Regions from separate parts of the Homo sapiens genome. Here regions 2, 3, 4, 5 and 6 are each reported to be linked to region 1. The links are microRNA targets in miRTarBase. Many come from high-throughput screens and were not tested one by one. Region 1 holds a microRNA gene; each other region holds the end of a gene's coding sequence.
What was found. The annotated mature microRNA hsa-miR-486-5p reads UCCUGUACUGAGCUGCCCCGAG and lies in region 1 at 1,780-1,801, opposite strand. An mRNA with a match to its seed (bases 2 to 7 or 8) in the 3' UTR can be bound and repressed. Matches are read on the target gene's strand: a 7mer-m8 pairs with bases 2 to 8, a 7mer-A1 pairs with bases 2 to 7 and ends in A, and an 8mer does both.

Region 2: miRTarBase lists CLDN10 as a target of hsa-miR-486-5p. Seed matches in the 3' UTR shown: 7mer-A1 at 1,020-1,026 and 7mer-A1 at 1,373-1,379.
Region 3: miRTarBase lists OLFM4 as a target of hsa-miR-486-5p. Seed matches in the 3' UTR shown: 8mer at 1,070-1,077.
Region 4: the mRNA of NRP2 is a reported target of hsa-miR-486-5p. The part of its 3' UTR that is shown has no 7-base or 8-base seed match.
Region 5: miRTarBase lists ARHGAP5 as a target of hsa-miR-486-5p. Seed matches in the 3' UTR shown: 8mer at 1,049-1,056.
Region 6: miRTarBase lists BASP1 as a target of hsa-miR-486-5p. Seed matches in the 3' UTR shown: 7mer-A1 at 3,450-3,456.

Annotation. Positions count from the first base shown.
Region 1 is chr8:41,659,245-41,662,244 of GRCh38, reverse strand. It overlaps MIR486-2 (microRNA 486-2), which reads right to left and starts at 1,801; the gene lies at 1,738-1,801. It overlaps ANK1 (ankyrin 1), which reads left to right. Exons shown (of 43, transcript NM_000037.4): 41 at 304-369; 42 at 681-815. The coding sequence ends at 779. MIR486-1 (microRNA 486-1) reads left to right here and starts at 1,737; the gene lies at 1,737-1,804.
Region 2 is chr13:95,577,213-95,581,076 of GRCh38, forward strand. It overlaps CLDN10 (claudin 10), which reads left to right. Exons shown (of 5, transcript NM_006984.5): 4 at 19-126; 5 at 688-2,547. The coding sequence ends at 802. It overlaps DZIP1 (DAZ interacting zinc finger protein 1), which reads right to left. Exons shown (of 23, transcript NM_198968.4): 23 at 990-3,864. Among named protein-coding and RNA genes, the nearest start is that of CLDN10, 26 kb to the left of the region's middle.
Region 3 is chr13:53,050,052-53,053,915 of GRCh38, forward strand. OLFM4 (olfactomedin 4) reads left to right here. Exons shown (of 5, transcript NM_006418.5): 5 at 1-2,006. The coding sequence ends at 720. Among named protein-coding and RNA genes, the nearest start is that of OLFM4, 23 kb to the left of the region's middle.
Region 4 is chr2:205,794,685-205,797,684 of GRCh38, reverse strand. NRP2 (neuropilin 2) reads right to left here. Exons shown (of 17, transcript NM_003872.3): 17 at 1-2,931. The coding sequence ends at 2,627. Among named protein-coding and RNA genes, the nearest start is that of NRP2, 110 kb to the right of the region's middle. RefSeq lists an enhancer at 619-1,120.
Region 5 is chr14:32,154,032-32,157,895 of GRCh38, reverse strand. ARHGAP5 (Rho GTPase activating protein 5) reads right to left here. Exons shown (of 7, transcript NM_001030055.2): 7 at 1-3,275. The coding sequence ends at 2,948. Among named protein-coding and RNA genes, the nearest start is that of RNU6-7, 46 kb to the left of the region's middle.
Region 6 is chr5:17,275,674-17,279,537 of GRCh38, reverse strand. It overlaps BASP1 (brain abundant membrane attached signal protein 1), which reads right to left. Exons shown (of 2, transcript NM_006317.5): 2 at 2,704-3,864. The coding sequence ends at 3,638. Among named protein-coding and RNA genes, the nearest start is that of BASP1, 60 kb to the right of the region's middle. RefSeq lists an enhancer at 3,404-3,864.

The DNA of each region.
Region 1 (3,000 bases):
TGCTCTGTCAACCAGGCTGGAGTGCAGTGATGCAATCTCAGCTCACTGCAACCTCCATCCACCAGGTTCAAGTGATTCTCCTGCCACAGCCTCCTGAGTAGCTGGGATTACAGGCACCTGCCACCACACCGGGCTAATTTTTGTATTTTTAGTAGAGACAGGGTTTCACCATGTTGGCCAGGCTGGTCTCAAACTCCTGACCTCAGATGATCTGCACGTCAGCCTCCCAAAGTGCTGAGATTACAGACATGAGCCCCCGAGCCCGGCCTGACCAGCCCTTTCCTCCTTCCCTTCCTTTCCTAGATCATTCGCAAGGTGGTTCGACAGATAGACTTGTCCAGCGCCGATGCCGCCCAGGAGCACGAGGAGGTGACTGTAGAGGGGCCCCTGGAGGATCCCAGTGAGCTGGAGGTCGATATTGATTACTTTATGAAACACTCCAAGGTACTGAGGCGCCCGCGGCCCTGGGGGACCCAGCGCCATCACTGCTGCCTTGCTCTGCCGGGCCGTCTGCATGACACCTCCCTCCACTCACCTCTTTATGAGCTCTCTCTCCAGTCTCTCTTCTCCCTGGTGGGCAGTGTGTCTGCCACCTCCGTGTGGCCTCCTTTCGATCTTCTGCCTGTGTTCTGCCCGTCTTTGCGATCTGTCCTGCTTTCTGTCTCTGCTGCTGTCTGCAGGTGGAGCTGAGAGGGAGTGGCCTACAGCCGGACCTGATAGAGGGCAGGAAGGGGGCGCAGATAGTGAAGCGGGCCAGCCTGAAAAGGGGGAAACAGTGACCCCGAGCCGCTCTCCTTGGAGTAGCCTCTCGGGAGGTAACGCTGCCCTTCTCATCCCCTCTGCATGGCCTGGTCTTCAGTGGAGTGGCTGCTCCCTGTCTCACCCTATCCCCTCCCAGCCACCCCAGCATGATGTGGGACAAACAACTTGTTGTTGTGTCTCGAGGCAGAGATTCTCACTTCCCAACCCTGCTAACAGTTGGCTCTGAACCCCAGCTTCCTCATCAAGGAAACAGAGTTAATAATATCCACTTATCAGGGACCGCACGGTTTTGTAAGAATGCCTTTTGGGCCGGGCACAGTGGCTCATGTCTGTAATCCCAGCATTTTGTGAGGTCGAGGCAAAAGGATTGCTTTAGGCCAGGAGTTCAAGACCAGCCTGGGCAACAGAGCAAGACCCCATCACAAAAAAAAGAAAAAAAAAAGCCAGAAAGAAAAAAATGCTCTTTGAAAAGTAAAAGCACTCTGTAAATCTAAGTGGTAATATTATCTTGGAAACCAAGCAATGGGGATCTAGAAAGCAGTGGACAGGGCATTGAAGAGGACAGGAGAGTTGGTCTGGGCTGTGATGCTTCAACATAAGAGCTCCAAGACTGAGGACTGGACTGTCTCTTGAACCTGGAGCCCAGCTACAGTTCTCACCAGGCCAAGGCTTAGCTTCTCTTTGGTGTTTTGTGAAACACGTTGCTCCCTTGCTTTCTAGGAAAGGGCTGAGCCGACAGGCCTAAGGGGTGGACGACGTGCTTTCTGCAAGTCAGGAGACCGTCAGGGTTGGGGCCGGGGCCTGGGCTGTGGTGCATGTGTGTGAGCATGGGGCAGTGTGGCCACAGAGCAGGGGCATGCCGTGCCGTGCCGTGCCATGAGGAAGGGACATGAAGACGCTGTGCGACCATCTCCAGCAGGTGTGTGTGGTGCTGGGGGCTTCAGCGGCCGGCTCTGATCTCCATCCTCCCTGGGGCATCCTGTACTGAGCTGCCCCGAGGCCCTTCATGCTGCCCAGCTCGGGGCAGCTCAGTACAGGATACCTCGGGGTGGGAGTCAGCAGGAGGTGAGGGGGCATGGTGGCCCCAGTGCAGCACTAACCAGGCCGTTACCATTCACACCCCAGGGCCTGACTCTGGGACCGAGCAGCAAGGAGGCTCTAGCTTTCTGCATTCGGCAAAAATCAGGGCCCGCTGCCTCCTGAGCCACCAAAAGTGCTGACTCTGGGCTTCCCAATATATCTCAGCACTTGGGCAAAAAAGAGGACTGGCAGATCCAGTTATAGGATAAAATTAGACCTGACACCTCAGCAGCTTAAGGAGGTCACCGTGTTAACCCCTGCACTGCCAGGGGTCCCACTAGGCTGCTGGTTTAGAAGACTCTGAGTAGCTGCTGTTGGGTCCTGGAAAGAACCCAAAGATGCAAATAATGTTTAAAAGCAGCAAAGGGAAAGGAAAAGTACACTTTTCTGACTTATTTTTCTTATGGTAGCAGTGGCGGCTGTGGCTTTAAATTTCTCTTTGGCTCAGGCTCTATGGATGCTCCTGAGTGGGAGAGAGGCAGCCCGAAAGCCAGGCTAGGGGGAAGGAGGGAGCCTTGAATTTCATTTTAATTTGCCGTAAGTGATCTGCAATGTGGCTGAAGCCCCCCAACCTCAGGTGATTAAGGACCGGACCACACTAGCATGGGTGTCAGAAACACGGAGCAGCCTGGCTCTGGGACAGCACTTGGCCCTCTGTCAGTGACAGGCACAGGGACAAGTGTGAGGGTGGCAGGGGGGTGGGGCGGTGGGGCGAGAGCAGTGGTGAGGGAGAGGCGGAGAAAAGCTCCTGCCAAAGTCCCAGAGGGTTAGGGGACAGCATTAAATGCCCTACCCTCCCAACCAGGGCAAAGGCTACAGAGAAGACGGTTGAGGGCCCAAAGGCTTCCTAATTTACTATCCGCATCCCCGACAAGCATGTACAGTCGATCCTCATCATTCACGGATTCTGCATTTGCGAATTCGTCCACTCGCTAACATTTATCTGTAGCCCCAAAGCTGGCACTCACCGTGCTTTGGCTCATTCATGGACACACACACAAGGGCAGAAAGTTTGAGTCGCCCAACCCGTGCAATCCCAGCTGAGGATGAACAATGCCACACTCTGCCTCTGTGCCTCATACTATAAATAAGTGTCCTCCTTGCAGCTTGTGTAGTGCCACATTTTTCACATTTTTGGTTTCATTGTTTAGAATGGCC
Region 2 (3,864 bases), not on the chromosome of region 1:
TGTAATGCTTTCTCACAGGTATGAATTAGGAGCCGCTCTGTTTATTGGATGGGCAGGAGCCTCACTGTGCATAATTGGTGGTGTCATATTTTGCTTTTCAATATCTGACAACAACAAAACACCCAGGTATGAAAAAGAGACAAAAATGACCTGTTAAAAAGTAGAATGCTATCATAAATCATTACATGTGGAACAAATTACAGATAGTTCATATGATTCTTAGAAACTTCCAAAATCCGGAATTGGAAAAGGTTAGCAGTACAGTTAATTTTTTAAAGTTTTACCATTACTATATTCCAAAGAAAATTCTAACGTAGAAATAAGGGTCTGAATATGAGGACATGTTCTTCACGTTGGCCTCATCATAATTTTCCTCTAGGTAGGCAGGAATGTTGATGGCCTCTACTAAGTCTCCTAGCTTCCAGGAGGGTGAGTTTTAAAACATGGTTTTGTAAGAGGATAACTGAACAAATGACCAAGTCATGAGTTTCTTCTGCAGAGATTCTCCATCCCACTCAGAAATGACACTGAAAATACTTCTTGGGGCAAGAGGAGAGAAGAAAGCTATCTAAGAAAGAGGAAGATTTACATTTAGATATTGGCAGAGACAGGCCGAAACAGTTTCTTCCCATTTTTGTTTGCCCTATGTGTAGAATAGAATCTACCAAACTATGTTTTACCTTTCAGATACACATACAACGGGGCCACATCTGTCATGTCTTCTCGGACAAAGTATCATGGTGGAGAAGATTTTAAAACAACAAACCCTTCAAAACAGTTTGATAAAAATGCTTATGTCTAAAAGAGCTCGCTGGCAAGCTGCCTCTTGAGTTTGTTATAAAAGCGAACTGTTCACAAAATGATCCCATCAAGGCCCTCCCATAATTAACACTCAAAACTATTTTTAAAATATGCATTTGAAGCATCTGTTGATTGTATGGATGTAAGTGTTCTTACATAGTTAGTTATATACTAATCATTTTCTGTTGTGGCTTTCTATAAAAAATAAACAGTTTATTTACAGGATTTGTAAAATGTTTTCTACATTTATATAGAACATGAAAAGCATTTAGTACCAAAGGTTCAAGAAGTATTCGTACTCTAGCCTTTTTAATCATTCATAGATAGAAGTCTTTGTACCCACTCCTTATGTTTCTTTTCATTCATAAACAGGTGTATAAGGAACAATGTCTTATAAACAGCATGGGGGCAATCTGAGAATATTCCTCAAAAGGTGTCCAGGTTAAATAGACATGTTACTGGCTGCACACAGGCAAATTCTAGTTTGTTTTTTTTAAGTATTCTACAACATTTATTTAAAAAGGTAAATCTTTTTGTTGAAGCAGCAAGTTATCTGGTAGAACTTAACTTCTACAGGATCAGAGAGGATCTTGCTCATTCATGGCCATATCCACATGCCCATGGCCACTCAGTAGATTGTTGAAAAAGCAAAGCCACACCATTCTCTTTGATGTATGCAGAGAGTTACGTAGCAGGGGATGTTCTCTGATTTATTCCACTGGCACCATTAGTGAATATTTAGTTGTTTTCATAAACGATGCTGTGATGAAGACTCATGTACATATTTAGCAAATTTTGGTTTCTTACATGTGCCTGTCATGACTGTAATTCATTATGACTGCTCCAGGAAGGGCTAATGGGGCCAATATATTATTGCCTGTCATGTGGCACATCCATGTTAAGGGGCTGAGGCGTCCCTGGCACGGAATGCAGAGCCCTGAGCTAGGGCATCAGCAGAAGCTGAGATAGAGATATTGGTCATGGTTGACTGAGGAGCCAATTAAAACCTGTTTATGCCTAGTGTTCCATTATTGGAACACTAAGCATGTGGGAGTTATTTATATCCTACTGCTCAAGGTCATCGCCAAGGTGTGATTGGAAAAATTCAAAAAATTGCAACCTCAGGCATAAATGGGTTAAGGACATCCCAAGCCCAAGTGGTACGTGCCTCACTCAGAACTGACGGGCCGAGTTCTATCTAGGTGTGTCTTCCAGAACCTGTTTACGGCTAACTGGATAACTGAGAGACTTGTCATTTCTAAAGACATTTAAGTTGCTCCAGGGATTTCTGAAAAAAGACACAGGCTTCTTCCTAGAGCCAGCCCTATATAACATGCCCACAAGGGCAACAGTTATCACAGTTCATACACACCTTTCATGTCCTGTCTCACTCACTCCTCACAGCCATCCTAGGAGATACATATTGTTTTCATCCTGCATTTACAGAAAAAGAAATGAAAACAGAGAGCTTAAATAATTTGCCACAGTAATGTCGAAACTAGGCCTTTGAACCAAGGCAGTCTAGGGTAAAATATAGTTTCAAAGTATGAATAAGAATTGGTATTTGTGTTATCTTTGAGTAAGAAACTGTCCGATATGAATCACAACGTGGGTGAATGTAGTATTTTCCTGAAGTGTGAAAGACTTAAAAAAAAGAATCACATTGTTCAGAGGTGCTCAATGGAAAGAAAAGGAAATGAACAAGTTTGTTAAAAGATAAAAAATAAAAAAAATTCCATACCTTGATAATCCTTGAAATATCTTTTGCAGAAATACAAATCAACTGAAAGACATGAAGGTAGATTAGGTCCTACAGGCCAGTGTGGGACAGGGTTGTGTAGGTGTGCATTTCAAACACATTTATTATTCAGAAGTGGTGCAGATAACGCTTAGATTACACCGAAGAATTTAGGGAGGGTGGGGGATGAAGGTCTGTTAGTAACCAGAAACACATTAGTTGGGCATCAGTAAGGGGCAACATAAAGGAATGGTTCCCCTCAAAAACGAACAAACCAAATTTTATACAAAAAAATGAAATGCAGCAGGGCGCGATGGCTCACGCCTATAATCCCAGCACTTTGGGAGGACAAGACAGCGGATCATTTGAGGTCAGGAGTTCGAGACCAGTCTGGCCAACATGGTGAAACCTCATCTCTACTAAAAATACAAAAAATTAAGCCAGGCATGGTGGTGGGCACCTGTAATCCCAGCTACTTGGGAGGCTGAGGCAGGAAAATCGCTTGAATCTGGGAGGCGGAGGTTGTAGTGAGCCGAGATGGTGCCACTGCGCTCAAGCCTGGGCAACATAGTGAGACTCTGTCTCAAAAAAAAAAAAAAAAAAAGATACAACTAACCATGTAAGCTAAAGGAGGGGCTCTTAAAAGACACAGATATAGTGACTTAATTTAAATACTGGGTTTACTTAGCAAAAGTTCATTTCCCCAAGCTCTTCTGCTCAGGAATGAAAACATGGCAGACACAAAACATGGAATAGAGACCTGGCTTAAAGTCTCCCCTTGACACTTTGTACTTGTATGGCTTCTGGCAACTTACTTAATAACTCTGTTTCTCACACCTTTAGGATGAGGATTATAACAATAACTACATCGCAAAGTTGTTGTAATTAAATGAATTAGTGCGTGTTCAAAACCAAACCAGACCAAGTGGTTCAATAAATATCTGCTGAATAAATAAATGAATGAACAAAGTGGCACATGGGCCATCTTAGGCTTGGTGTAGTTTTGTAGATTGCCGTTCTCTGTCCTACCACATGAAACTTGGATTCGGCCTTCTGTTCTCTGTCCTACTACATGAAACTTGGATTCAGCCTTCACTAAAGCTTTTAGAAACATACATATAAAGTGAGTATATCTGCATGAAATGGCCCCTATAGGAAGTTGGAAGGATTCTTTTAGAGGGCAGGAATGGGCTACAAGTAAAAAGGATCCCAGGGTGGGTGGAAACAGATAAAGATTTGTTCTAACCATTAGGACAGAATGTCATATGGCATAGCAATCAAGGCCAGATTCTCCCTCTGTAAGACCCCTAATAAGTACAAATTTA
Region 3 (3,864 bases), not on the chromosome of region 1:
GGTGCTTGGGGTAGGGATTACTCTCCCCAGCATCCAAACAAAGGACTGTATTGGGTGGCGCCATTGAATACAGATGGGAGACTGTTGGAGTATTATAGACTGTACAACACACTGGATGATTTGCTATTGTATATAAATGCTCGAGAGTTGCGGATCACCTATGGCCAAGGTAGTGGTACAGCAGTTTACAACAACAACATGTACGTCAACATGTACAACACCGGGAATATTGCCAGAGTTAACCTGACCACCAACACGATTGCTGTGACTCAAACTCTCCCTAATGCTGCCTATAATAACCGCTTTTCATATGCTAATGTTGCTTGGCAAGATATTGACTTTGCTGTGGATGAGAATGGATTGTGGGTTATTTATTCAACTGAAGCCAGCACTGGTAACATGGTGATTAGTAAACTCAATGACACCACACTTCAGGTGCTAAACACTTGGTATACCAAGCAGTATAAACCATCTGCTTCTAACGCCTTCATGGTATGTGGGGTTCTGTATGCCACCCGTACTATGAACACCAGAACAGAAGAGATTTTTTACTATTATGACACAAACACAGGGAAAGAGGGCAAACTAGACATTGTAATGCATAAGATGCAGGAAAAAGTGCAGAGCATTAACTATAACCCTTTTGACCAGAAACTTTATGTCTATAACGATGGTTACCTTCTGAATTATGATCTTTCTGTCTTGCAGAAGCCCCAGTAAGCTGTTTAGGAGTTAGGGTGAAAGAGAAAATGTTTGTTGAAAAAATAGTCTTCTCCACTTACTTAGATATCTGCAGGGGTGTCTAAAAGTGTGTTCATTTTGCAGCAATGTTTAGGTGCATAGTTCTACCACACTAGAGATCTAGGACATTTGTCTTGATTTGGTGAGTTCTCTTGGGAATCATCTGCCTCTTCAGGCGCATTTTGCAATAAAGTCTGTCTAGGGTGGGATTGTCAGAGGTCTAGGGGCACTGTGGGCCTAGTGAAGCCTACTGTGAGGAGGCTTCACTAGAAGCCTTAAATTAGGAATTAAGGAACTTAAAACTCAGTATGGCGTCTAGGGATTCTTTGTACAGGAAATATTGCCCAATGACTAGTCCTCATCCATGTAGCACCACTAATTCTTCCATGCCTGGAAGAAACCTGGGGACTTAGTTAGGTAGATTAATATCTGGAGCTCCTCGAGGGACCAAATCTCCAACTTTTTTTTCCCCTCACTAGCACCTGGAATGATGCTTTGTATGTGGCAGATAAGTAAATTTGGCATGCTTATATATTCTACATCTGTAAAGTGCTGAGTTTTATGGAGAGAGGCCTTTTTATGCATTAAATTGTACATGGCAAATAAATCCCAGAAGGATCTGTAGATGAGGCACCTGCTTTTTCTTTTCTCTCATTGTCCACCTTACTAAAAGTCAGTAGAATCTTCTACCTCATAACTTCCTTCCAAAGGCAGCTCAGAAGATTAGAACCAGACTTACTAACCAATTCCACCCCCCACCAACCCCCTTCTACTGCCTACTTTAAAAAAATTAATAGTTTTCTATGGAACTGATCTAAGATTAGAAAAATTAATTTTCTTTAATTTCATTATGAACTTTTATTTACATGACTCTAAGACTATAAGAAAATCTGATGGCAGTGACAAAGTGCTAGCATTTATTGTTATCTAATAAAGACCTTGGAGCATATGTGCAACTTATGAGTGTATCAGTTGTTGCATGTAATTTTTGCCTTTGTTTAAGCCTGGAACTTGTAAGAAAATGAAAATTTAATTTTTTTTTCTAGGACGAGCTATAGAAAAGCTATTGAGAGTATCTAGTTAATCAGTGCAGTAGTTGGAAACCTTGCTGGTGTATGTGATGTGCTTCTGTGCTTTTGAATGACTTTATCATCTAGTCTTTGTCTATTTTTCCTTTGATGTTCAAGTCCTAGTCTATAGGATTGGCAGTTTAAATGCTTTACTCCCCCTTTTAAAATAAATGATTAAAATGTGCTTTGAAAAAAGTCATCTTTTGTTTTATTTAATTTTAATTTTTTTTTAAAGCTCTTAACAGGGTAGTCCATATCTTGCTATGAGGTTGGGAGAATGGCTACCTCCCAAACACTAGTGCGGGGAGATTGCACACCTAACAACAGATCACATCAATAACTTTTATAAGAGCCCAGAGTTAGGCTGGCTCTTTCATTTTTCTTTCCCTTTAAAATCCACTCTTTCTGGCAGCTTTTATTGTACATGACTGCCCTATTATCTTTTGGGATATGACCTTATGTACTTATTAATTTGCATGACTGATCTGATTATTTCCAATGCTAGACTACATTTATGTAGCTTATGTTCCTTTTCCAATTGAGCTATGAACATGGATCAGAAGCCTCTGGATCTTCCCCAGACAGGAGGACTTGGGCAGAAAGCAAAAGGACTAACTGGCTATACCAGGAAGAGAAGTACCTTTACCAAAGAGAATATGTAAGAAGACAGGTGACCTAGAGCTGGAAGGACACAGTGGACTGATGTAGTTAGTCTTACTGAAATGCTCATTTTGGATCCTTGCCAAACTTTTTGAGACAGATGGCAGCTATAATATTTAGTATTTTAGTAAGATTTTTCCCTATCTCTTCAGGGCTGAGTGTAGAGACAGGTATGCCCTTCAAAATGCAACAAGATATGAAGATAAAGACATGTATGTCATGTGAGATACAAGTTAAAAACCAGGATGTTATATTTAATCTGGCTCTAGGCAGTTTTCCAGATCAATGTTTTGTACCAAGTACACAGTATGACCTCTGAAGATTCAGGAAAGGAGGCAGGAAGCCAAGGTAACCCTAGCAATCAGCTTCTTATTTGAACTGCTACAGAAGCATTTGCCTGAAAAAATTCACTTCCCAGCCTCTTTCTCACTGGACGTGGTGTATCAGCCTGCAGTGGCTGCCTGCAGGAAATCTCCCTGCAGGGAAGGTTGAAGGACTCAGGGATTCAGGCTCCTGGGTTTACCGCAGTGCAGTTACACAATGGGAAATTTAGCTCCAGATTCATCAGCTACTGCCTGTTTTGAAATTTACATATATATATTATAAACATAAATTACATAAGGTATAATTCACATGTGGTAAAACTTGCCAGTTTTAAGTGCACAATTCAATGAGTTTTGACAAGTGTATAGTCATGTAAAGGCTACCACAATTAGGACATAAAACACTTCCATCCTCCCTGAAATGTTCTCTTGTGTTTTTTTTATAGACAACTCTTACCCCCACCCTCCAGTCTCTGGCCACCACTGATCTGTTTCCTATACCTACGGCTTTGCTTTTTCCCCAAAGTCATGGACATGGAATTATATAGTGAATAGGCTTTTGAATCTGCCTTCTTCAACAAGGGAATTAGTCGGTTCAAATTACCCCAGAGGAGAACTGGGCATTACTAATGCTCTTGGGGTTCCCTGCATTGTTTACTATCTTTCCTGGGGTTGGATAGGGGATTACGGAGAGCTGTGGTGACCTACTGCCCTTATAAGTGTTCCTGAGTGGCCTCTAGGGCCATGGGAGGGGTCTAAATCTGTGTACCAATCAAACCTACCAGGCAGCGCTCCCAAAGCATGAGGGTTTCTTGTTACCAGGCTTGTTGAAGGTTTGTTCTCCAATCTTTACTCCTGTACCACAAGCATCCCTACCCAGGTGAGACTGTATATTAATTAACATTGCATAGAGTGGTCATGGGCACAGGATTCAGAGTCATGCAAAAATGGATTTGACTCTTGGTCCTACTACTTGCATATGGTATGGTTTTGGGAAGGTGCCTTAACTTTTCTGAGACTCAGTGTCTTTTTCTGTAAGGTGGAATAAAACCACCTACTTTACAGTCCTC
Region 4 (3,000 bases), not on the chromosome of region 1:
ACAAACACACCAAGGTGTCCCCTGGCCAAGTCAAAATTGGGCCCAGCGTCTTTCTTTCTGTCTTATGACAGACCAGCCTCCAGCCTTGGTGTGGTATCTACATGTAGCCCTGCGTACCCTGCTTCTTTTTAGCATTCAAGGCCCACTCAGGGCCTCAAATTAGCCAATGGTGAATATGGATATAGGACTTTTAGAGGGATGCAGGTTGAGTTGTACATAACTTAGAGGTGAAGTGCAGGTCCGAAACAGGGCTAGACTTTGGAGAACTGTAAAATGGCTCACTGAGCATGACAGCATCAGGACCCCTGGAGTGGCTTTCAAACTTACCTTCTTCTGCAGGCTACTTCTGGAAATCCCTAGGACTTACCAGCTTTCTGAACACTGCGCATCATGGGAGGGTGAAGAGGAAAAGGGGCTAGTTAAAATCTTGCTTCTACTGTGGGCCGAACTCAGGAGGAGCCCTAAAGCTAAGCCCTTGGGCTTGACAGCTCTACTTTTCACCTCTAACTACCACTGTGCCAATGAGTGCCGAGTGCCAAGATCAGCTGTGACACTCGGACCCTAGGTCAAAGTCACAACACCACCACTGAGTCCCACATGACCATTCACATACACAGTAGATACAGAGAACTCAAAGCAGCAAAGACACACACACATGAATAAACAGCTGTTGGTTGAACTCTTGCTCTCTGCATACAAAACACTGTGACATTACCATTTGAACTAGCATTTCCATAAGTTAACATTTAAAGGAACCAGCCAGTCCCATTCACCCTTCCCCTTTCACCTGGGTATAAGACAAATGAAATCGTGGGTGACCACAGCAGCAAAAATGGTCTGACAATGATATGCAATAGGCTGGGCATACTGGTTGAGTTTCAAATATATTTCCAGCACACAGGCAATCCTTAGGCGTTAATATGAAATCAAGATTTGGATCTTGATGCGAACAATCTTATCCTTCACACAGTTTCATTCTATTCCTGATGCCTCCCTTTGAAGAGTAGTTGAGAGTCATCTAGGGCTATGACTACCACTCGGGTAGCAGGACTCATTCCTTTAATAGGATCAGCAGTGAGTTGGGGTACTTGGGAATGGAGCCATCGGGGTTAGGGAAAGAGGAATGCCTTAATTCATAAGATATTCACTAATTTTTACATAAAGGGAAAATACATTTTTCTTCATTTTTTCAAGGCACTTAATAAAAACATAAATTGGTGTGCATGCGTGCGTGCGTGCATGTGTGTATGTGTGTGTGCGTGCATGTGTGTATGCGTGTGTGCATATGTGTAAGAACCTAGGTCTCTCAAGGCTGAAGCAGCATGGTTAAGCATTCTTGTCCACAGTACTTGCGGACTTCTGGTTAGAATCAGTTCTTGTACATCCTAGCTCTGACTCTCCCGAAAGGTTGAAATGGTGTTTGTAACCCAAAGGAGAAGTCGGTGTTTACTAGTCTATTTGAGAGACAAATGCATTTCAAAGGGTCTCTGTCTACACTGCTCAGCCTTGGCCCTCATATGATCACAGAGGTTGGGCTTCTCTTTCCCTCTCCTCTGTTCTCCTTCCCGTCCAGTGGTGACCAGTTACAATAACTCGCTGATGGGGAGAACATACCAATAGTCTCTATTTTTCCCTCTATTTTCCCCTGCCTCTGAGAATATCACACAATGCTGCTTCCAGGGGCTTAGAGACCTGAAGAATATGTGTATGTGTGTATGTATATATGTATATGTTTTAGAAGAACATGGAGGAGGGAAAAGAAAAGGCAAAACCACCACCAGAAGCCCCACAAGGGAAGCCCCACCACCAGACACTGTGGGTCTAGAATTAGCGAATGGCTCCTATTCACTCACAAAGCACTTTAAGCCTCGTCCAGGCGCTTCTATGGATTTTGACGTGTGAAGTTTCCTTTCCAGTTTGTTTTAAATCGCATACAAGAAAGAGCTGTTCATGCTGACCCTAAAATGGCAATTTTCCCCTGGATAAGAAAAGTTAAAGGCAACAACATCCTACTTAAATGCTAGGACTGGAAATGGCAGCTTGTAGGGTTGGCTGGCAGAACCTACACCACAGTAAATCCCTTAAGTCAGAAGACAATCAGAGGATGGGATAAGCTGGACGGCTTTTTTGAGTTTTATTTGTAAAGATGGAAAGGCTGAAAAGACACTTTGCTTTTCAAGTGTTGATTAGAAAGAGAAAGCGGAGAATAATGATCACTGCTCCACTTCTATTCTGGAAAAGTCATTCTCCTCTTCTGCCTCTTTGAGTTGCTCACAGACCAAAGAAATAAAATATAATAATAATAATAATAATAATAATAATACAAACTCACAAACAAAATAGAACTGTGACCCCAAAGAGATGAGCTCCTGTTTTGTCCCAGCAGAGAACACAGCCCCGTTCCTGCAATGACTTAGCCACCGCGGTCCTAGGAGGGTAATCATCCCCTGTGCGGCTGCATCTCCCTTCCTCCTGCGACTCGCTTTTCTGTCCTGTCCATACCTTCGGTATTCTGGATCGGTTTGATCGAGATTATGGCATTCAGTTTCCAAAGGAAAAAAAAATGTAATCTTCCCCAGCCCCTCTTGCTGGAATGAAACGTCAGATAGGATTCAGGTGCAATCCGTCATGCCTCGGAGCAGCACTTTTGGTGGTTCATCTTGACCTTGTGCTTAAGGCCATCGTAGAGCTCGAAGTTGTAGTTCTCCAGTGTGGTGCAGCTTCGGGAGCTCAGGCCCGAGTAGGAACAGGTGCAGTAGAGCAGGAGGCCTGCACAGGTGGCCCCCAGGAGGACGCCCAGTGAGCTCATGGCGATGATGGTGATGAGGATGGGATCCAGGGTGTACAGCCAGCTCTTTTCTTTGTCGGTCGAGGGGGCGCCAGACCCTGAGGTTGCAGAAGAAGAATTGCTCCAGTCCACCTCGTATTCATCTGCGATACATAAAATTCATGAGAGATTGCAGGCACTGCCTATGTCAGGGTGAAGTGACTGAGCCTCCC
Region 5 (3,864 bases), not on the chromosome of region 1:
TCCAATTGTTCCCTTTTGTTGATACCTAAGAGATATTAATTAGATTCCAGTACCTCAAAAAAAAAAACAAACCCAAATAAACAAAAAAACCCAGGTCTACATTATTTACATACAGTATGGGAAAAAAAGCTGCTTTTTGGCTAACTTAGATTGCGGTTACCTGCAGTATTTACACTGTAAATGTTAAGGGGAAGAAGCACTACTAACAAATACCATTTAAAAAAAATATATTGTGCCTGGAATTTTATTCTTAAATTAGTTGTATATCCTAATAAGTGTCTGTTGAATAGAATTTGACTTCTAATAAATCTACTGAAAGTGTGAAACAGAGTACCACTATGCTTCTTTATATTGCTAATCTAGATCCTGTTAGGTCCAATATTGTAGTTAACTATAAGCACTGAACCTTAAATGAAACAATGGCAACATGTGTGTAGATGAAATTTTATTCAGTATTGTAAAATATAATGCCTTGATGTTTACTCACAATTATGAGACTATCCTATTCTTTTAATCCTTTAAGAAGTCTCATATGATAGGTCCCTAAACAGTGAAACCTTCCAGTAACTTACCAGAAAAAAGTTTAATTATGTTATTCTGTTCTTAGATGTTTCTAATATTTAAAAGCATATCTAAACCCTTGGCAAAAACAAACACAATCAATTCAGTGTAACAGACTGAGCTTTAAACTGTACTTTAATTTTCAATAACTGTAACCTACTGGTTAATTGAACCAAACGTAGAGTATTTAAATGACTCACTATGAAGTGTGTCAAATCAATGATAGAATGCATAGAAAAGTGGAGATAAGTTTGGGGGAAGGTGCAAGGTGGGTTAATGTGAAAAACGGTAAATGCCAGTTTTAATAACAAAAATGGTACTAAACGCAGATGAACATTAAATTAATACAGTATAAAAGAGAACAGCTTAAATAAACTGGTATTCACATATTACAATAGCAAAGTTATGACAGAATGAACTGAAGACACGAACAGTTTTGAAAATTCTCTTTTCAGCCTACTTCCAAATAGAAATAGTCAGGCTTTTTTCCTGTACATAGTTTGATGCTTTGTCTATACCATATATAGTAGAAAAATAAATTCTTTAGCAACCTAGAAACAGTTTATAAAACTCTTAAAGTTTAATTTTCTTTGCCAGACATGCCAATAGTTAAACTGACAACTATAAATTAAAGCTATATAGACAATAGGTATAAGTAATATAGAACAGGTTAAGAATACTACATTTACCGGATTTTTTTTTAAAAATTACTGTACTTTCTTAATTCCTGTGTGCTTTGCAATAGGAATAATAGGGACTTTGTTTTCTTAGAAAAGATAACATGTAAGAGTATAACACAAATAAGATAATTTATAATATACATGTACTTCAACAGCAGCCTGGTTCATGCCAACATCTTGGTTCTGAAGTTAAAATTGGAAGTACAATACCTAGAACTTAACAGTTGGGAGAGACAATATTTATTTTAGGAAAAAACAGAGCAAATCAAACTCTTAGGAGCCTTGAATCTGAAAATCATCTATTTACTATAATACACATAAGATAATCTTAAATTGTAGTATGAATTAAGATAACATTGACCAAATAATTTTTTTCTTTACTACACAAAATATAACCTAGTGAAATTTACCTGTGCCACCTATTCTGAAAATTTTATCCATAATTTAGTGTTCTGGTTTTATCTTCACTAACAAAATGTTTACCCCCAAAAGCAGCAGTCACTTATAGTAATTCTGGTACCAACATCAAAGGAAAAAATTGGCTTAAAAATGGTGCAAAAGCCATTTTGGATTTTAGTACAACACATCACAGAAAAGAATATGAATACAAATTTGTAATATAAACACTCCAAAGAGTCTGTCAGTACCCAAAGTATTTTTATTGCTATATTAGCAATGGGTTTTTTGGATATTTTTTAAGGGCCACATAAAAATAGATTCAAGGAACAAATTAAATTGAAGTCCTAGATTTAAATGTTTGGTTTAAAGAATTTTCTACAACAAATTTCATGTTTATGTATGAAAAGTTATATAACCTTATATGAAAATGTCATGGAAGTATTTTCTACACTATACTAAATGTGTTCCCCAAGAGGGAAAAAATTAAAATATCTAAAATATATTAGATTAAGATTACAAGACCATCATAGATCTTTTGAACATGCATCTGTTTACAGAATTAACAGTATACAAAATTTTTATTTCATTATGGACCATAAAGAAATGAGTTGGTGACAACTATCCTTTGCACAACATTATCAACTCACTTTAGCCACAAGCATGTCCTTGGTATGTGTGTAAAAGAAATAGGTTCATTTATCCCTCATCAAATCATCCACGGGTTTACTTGGAAGTAAAGATGAAGGTACAGAAATGTGAAATATGTCAAGTGTATTTTTTCTTTCTTTCAAACAACATCCCAAGCATGGCCTCAGTAGCCTGAAATTATAAAATACTTAACTGGGCTTTTAGTTATCTACACCGACTGCCAGAATGTAAATTAAGTTGCCCAAATTAGCACATCAAATAACAAAATCAGCCAGAAAGCAGGCTGAAAAGCATTAAATGTTTCATATAGGTGAGTTTTTAAATCATTTAATTTCTATAGAAAAATTTTATTCACAATATAAGGTGACAGAAATTGCCACAGGAATGATATACTGATTGCAATAAGGTTGCATGCAGCAGCAGCTTTGTACTTTATAGCTATTTTTGTTTATAAAAATTAAACCTCTCCAGTCATGCTTATCACATGGTCTTAGATTTGTAATGTAAGTGAATAAGGAATACCATCTAGTTCAAAGAGAAAATGTAATTTTGAATGTGAATTATCTGTATGAAACATGAAGTATACTACTGAACCCTGAAACATGCATGTCTAGATTTGCTTTTTGTCCAAATCCAGCCTGTTTGCAATCACTTCCTACTCATATAATACCAAGAGGATCCGTTTGTAATTGTGGTTGTATCAGCTGAGGTTGCAATGGTGGCGGCAACTGAAGTGGCACCATTGGTTCCACCAACTGTCCTGGGTTTGAAGGTGGTGGAGGAGCCACAATGTTTGTCGTTTCTACAATTTCTCCATTGTAAAAGAAAAACTGACACTGCTGAATGAATGTTTCAACAACAGATTGATGAATCTTAGTAGTAGACAGAAACTCTCGATTTTCAAAATCAGGTCTCATCAAGGTTGGCCAAAAACAGATGGATAAGTTGTCTGCTGTCATTAGGTTGATTTTATGTTGCTGACTAACCCTGAAATTATGAAAGGAAAAAACATTTAGAAATCAAAACTCATTACAATCACAGAATTCCAGAGCTAGAAATGATCTCAGATTTAATGTTACCTTTTATCCTACTTCAAACCTGGGGTTTAAAAATTTGCATAAAGAAGCATCTTTAATTCGTATGTAAAAAACTTTTCCTGGGCCAGGTGCAGTGGCTCACGCCTGTAATCGCAGCACTTTGGGAGGCTGAGGCAGGCGGATCACCTGAGGTTGGGAGTTCGACACCAGCAGGACCAACATGGAGAAACCCCATCTCTACTAAAAATACAAAATTAGCCAGGCGTAGTGACAAAGCCTGTAATTCCAGCTACTTGGGAGGCTGAGGCAGGAGAATCGCTTGAACCTGGGAGGTGGGGGTTGTGGTGAGCCGAGATCGCGCCATTGCACTCCAGCCTGGGCAACAAGAGTGAAGTGAAATTCCGTCTCAAAAACAACAACAATAACAACAAAAAACCTTTCCTGATGTGACAAATTGTATTGAGTTTCTGGCAACAGAAACAACAAATTCTAATTGTATATGTAACTTCTTTGACTACTGTGAGAGATGAAAAACCAGA
Region 6 (3,864 bases), not on the chromosome of region 1:
GTTAGCTCTGATCATGGACACTAACTAGTATGTGCCTGTTTCAGTGAAGATACTGTGTTTTGTTATACCATGATGTTTCATTCAAGGAAAATTAAAGTCCCAGGATGCTTTACGAAAACAAACTTCCTGTTAGCAATGCAGTAAGTACTCTTGGCTATGCTGGTACCTAATGATTTACCCAACTTAGGTAAAGAAGTTACCCAGCTAAAGTATGTCTAGGTCTTGTCAGCGCAAGTAGTTGACAACCAAGTCCTTACTGTCCACTAGACCTACGTCTTGATTCCAGAGAGAAAGAAGATTCTCCAAGACTGGGGAATGACATTCCGGGAGTGCCAGTACCACCTCTGCCTCCATATTGCCAGGAACAGACTGAAGATGGCCTTCTCTCAGGGTTGAGACCAGGAAGGGCCATCCTGGGATGCATGGCACATGCCAGCTCTTGGGGACCAGAGTCCATTCCCATCATGCAGAGGCGGCATCAGCTACGGAAAAGAATCTTCAAAGTGGAGGGACAAGCCTGGCATCCCTGTACAAGTTCCTCTGGATTCCTCATAGTTTCCTCCTTGCAGTACGCACAAAGGCACCCAGTAAATGAACGTTAGACCCTGGAACACTTCATTCTTCATAGAGGAGAGGGACATGCCTAAGTTAGTGAAGCAAATATGCGGTAAGTTCCCCGATGGTTCTGACTTGCCTGTTCAGCACAGGCTGTGCAGTCCCTTCTCTTCATTTTAAATCATTCATGAGGCAAGAACAATCTAGGTTAATCCAAATTAACATGGCCCAACATTGTTCCCTTCCTGGCTGAGCCAATTACTCCCACACGTACTACATTTTCTGCTGCATATACAACTTCAAACTACAGCTCAAGTTTTTTTCTTCAGTATGGTAAAATTCAATGTCATGAACCATGGCTAGGTTAAAATTCTGATTTAAACATTTTGGTGACTATATTTCTAACACTTTTTAGTTGCTTCAACACCTAATGGAGTTATAAAAAAGAAAAATAAATATATATAGCTCAGATTTTAATTCTCCTACTCTGCAACTCCAAATAAATTCAGAAAAATGTCTCAGTTTCATTTATTCAAAAAATGGCAATTTGTAGTAATAAATGCTAATCTGGGAGGCTGATTTGATTGTTCTAATTACCAAAAAGCTTAGCATTTTTTTTATTAGAAGAAGGGGAAGTGGGGAAGACAGTGAATATATAAAATATTACTTCCACCAAGCATATTTTTCTGCAATAAATGCATGGCATTTAATCAGTAACTATATAAATGTCCTCCATGGTTCACTGAATCTTTTACCACTCCATCACCATCACCGGCCCCCAAGCTATTTTGTATATGCGAGGACACGCGGGTAATTACCTGGACATTCCCCTTCTTTTTCCTTATGTAAAACAGTTGCCTGGTGGTTACTGTGTTTACAGATTTCTTGTATGCTGTGCTTTCAAGCATTAAGAATTCAAATTTATCTCACTATAGAAACAAGAACCCAAAGTGCCAAAAAATGATCATAAATACCAGTTGAACCCAACGGGTATAATACTTACATAATCCTCACTTTCACCACTTTTTCTTTCCCAATGAGGTAAGAGACAGACTATAGGCTACTCCCAAAATACTCAAAGATTTTTTTCCCTTTTTTATTTAACCATGTGTAATGTAACCCGTAAGAATGGAACCAGGTTCGTCTGAATCCATTGTGTCATTAATGTCCCTTTGAGAATCAATTCCATTACACTGGCCTTCACACATTCCACAGGACATTTCCTATGTCGGAGTTTTCTAAACTATGAAATTGTTATTCATTACTCTGTGAGTTTTGGAGAATCAAGACATGGAAGAGACATCCCATCAGTCTGTGCATACCTATGCATCGTGACATTAAATTGTCACCGGGTATGTACCCAAACCATTAAATGGGACCTTGCCTCAGAGATCATAAAGGCTACACCCTTTTGTAAGTAAAGCAAGGAAGGTCTGGGAAGGTTGGAAGTGACTTAAAACCCATCCAAGTCACTAGTGGCAAAATCAGGACCGAAATCCGGTCACCATAAAGGCCGGCTCCATGCTTGCTTCCGCATCACTGCTGTCTCATAGCACAATTCTCAGGTGGCCTTTCCTGGCTCTACCATGAATATGATAAAAATAAAAATAGGGGATGGGATAGAACAGAATAACCATTAGTGGTGCCACAATTTACAAACACAGGTTTCTATAAGATCCTGTCATTCATTTTTTCCCCAGCCTTCAAGATCAAATCTATTTATTGTCTTTTAACGTGTTTTATTCAAAATCTTTCTTCTTCTTAATTAGTTACATTTTCAGAGGGTGCATATGCATAGATGCAGTAAGTTTTCAGTTTAACTTCTTCTGAGATAGTTTACTGACATTGCCCTAGCTATTTTTTTCAACAAATAATGTTGGCATTTTTTTTTTTTTAAATAGAGGTGGGGTCTCACTATCTTACTCAGGCTGGTCCTCAACTCTTGGGCTCAAGCCATCCACCTGCCTCGGCCTCCAAAAGTGCTGGGATTACAGGCGTGATCCACCGTCCCTGGTCTATTTTTTTACTTCTATCCAAATATATTCAGAAAAATGGCCAATACAGTGCTCTGTTCTCTGATAAAGTAGTTATTGAAGGGGACTAGAAAAGTAAAACAAACAGAACAAAAAACCCAATAGTCTTTATTACTTCTTTTTAATTGTTTAACTTTATTACTGTTGCACCATTTATACAATTACATATAATTTCAATGCATCCATTGTACATTTTTTTGTTTTTTTTTTGTTTTTTTTTTCCATTTTCCAATGAGTGGTGTGTTGGTGTCTGTGACACAGAATGGAAGAGAAACTGGAACTGCAATGAACGCAGACTTTTTTTTTTTTTTTTTTTCATTTCCACTGACCAATAAACAGAACTACAGGTGCACCCAACCACGGACATGCATTAACTCGTCATGAGAAATCTAGGTAGGCTAAGTAGGATGAGAGAATGTTTGTCACTCCCAAAAATATCTGGAGAGGAAGAATGGAGGATTGGCATTGAGATCCATGTGGACAAGCTAAGTGGGCTCTGTCTGAAAGCTGGCATTCATCCACAACATTAAAAAAATATCAAAATAAGAAAGGCTGTAAATTAAAAAGAAAACACAGAAAATACTGCTCTCATAAAGATCTGATTGCCTTGGCACAGGCCCTGTGGGCAGAATCAAACGCATCACTCCCAACTCCCATTGCAGAAGAAAAGCTATTCAACTCTCAGCGGTGGAGGAGTGCATGTGGCGGCAGTTTCAGGTACAAACGATGTACTGCACTTTCAGACGCGGATCTTGGAAATCCAGGACTTCTTGGTAAAGTTGACTGAAGGTATATTAGATATTTCCCCACAAAAATACTATTTGGATTCTCCCACCCCCTCCCTCCCTTGATGGGACAACATCCTGTATTTTTCCTTGGGCAATACATATCATTACTTCCAATTTGAAACAAGTTAGTATAGGAGAGAGAGAGAGGAGAGATAGGAGAGGAGAGAGAGAGAGGAGATAGAGAGAGAGATAGAGAGAGAGAGAGAGAGAGAGAGAGGAGATTGTTTTAAGTGGTATTGTTTTTCCTATAGGCTGTCCTTGTCACTCTTTCACGGTTACGGTTTGGTCGGAATTAGCTGCCGGGGCCTCCACCGGCTTGGGCTCTTCTGCAGAGGCTGCGGGGCCCTGGGCCTTGGGTGTGGAACTAGGCGCTTCCGTGGCTGCGGGGGTCTCCTTGGAAGAGGGGGCAGCCTCCGAGCTGCCGGGTTTTGAGTCTGAAGCTGGGGCCCCGTCACTTTTGGTCTCCTGGGCGGCAGGAGCTGCGGGCG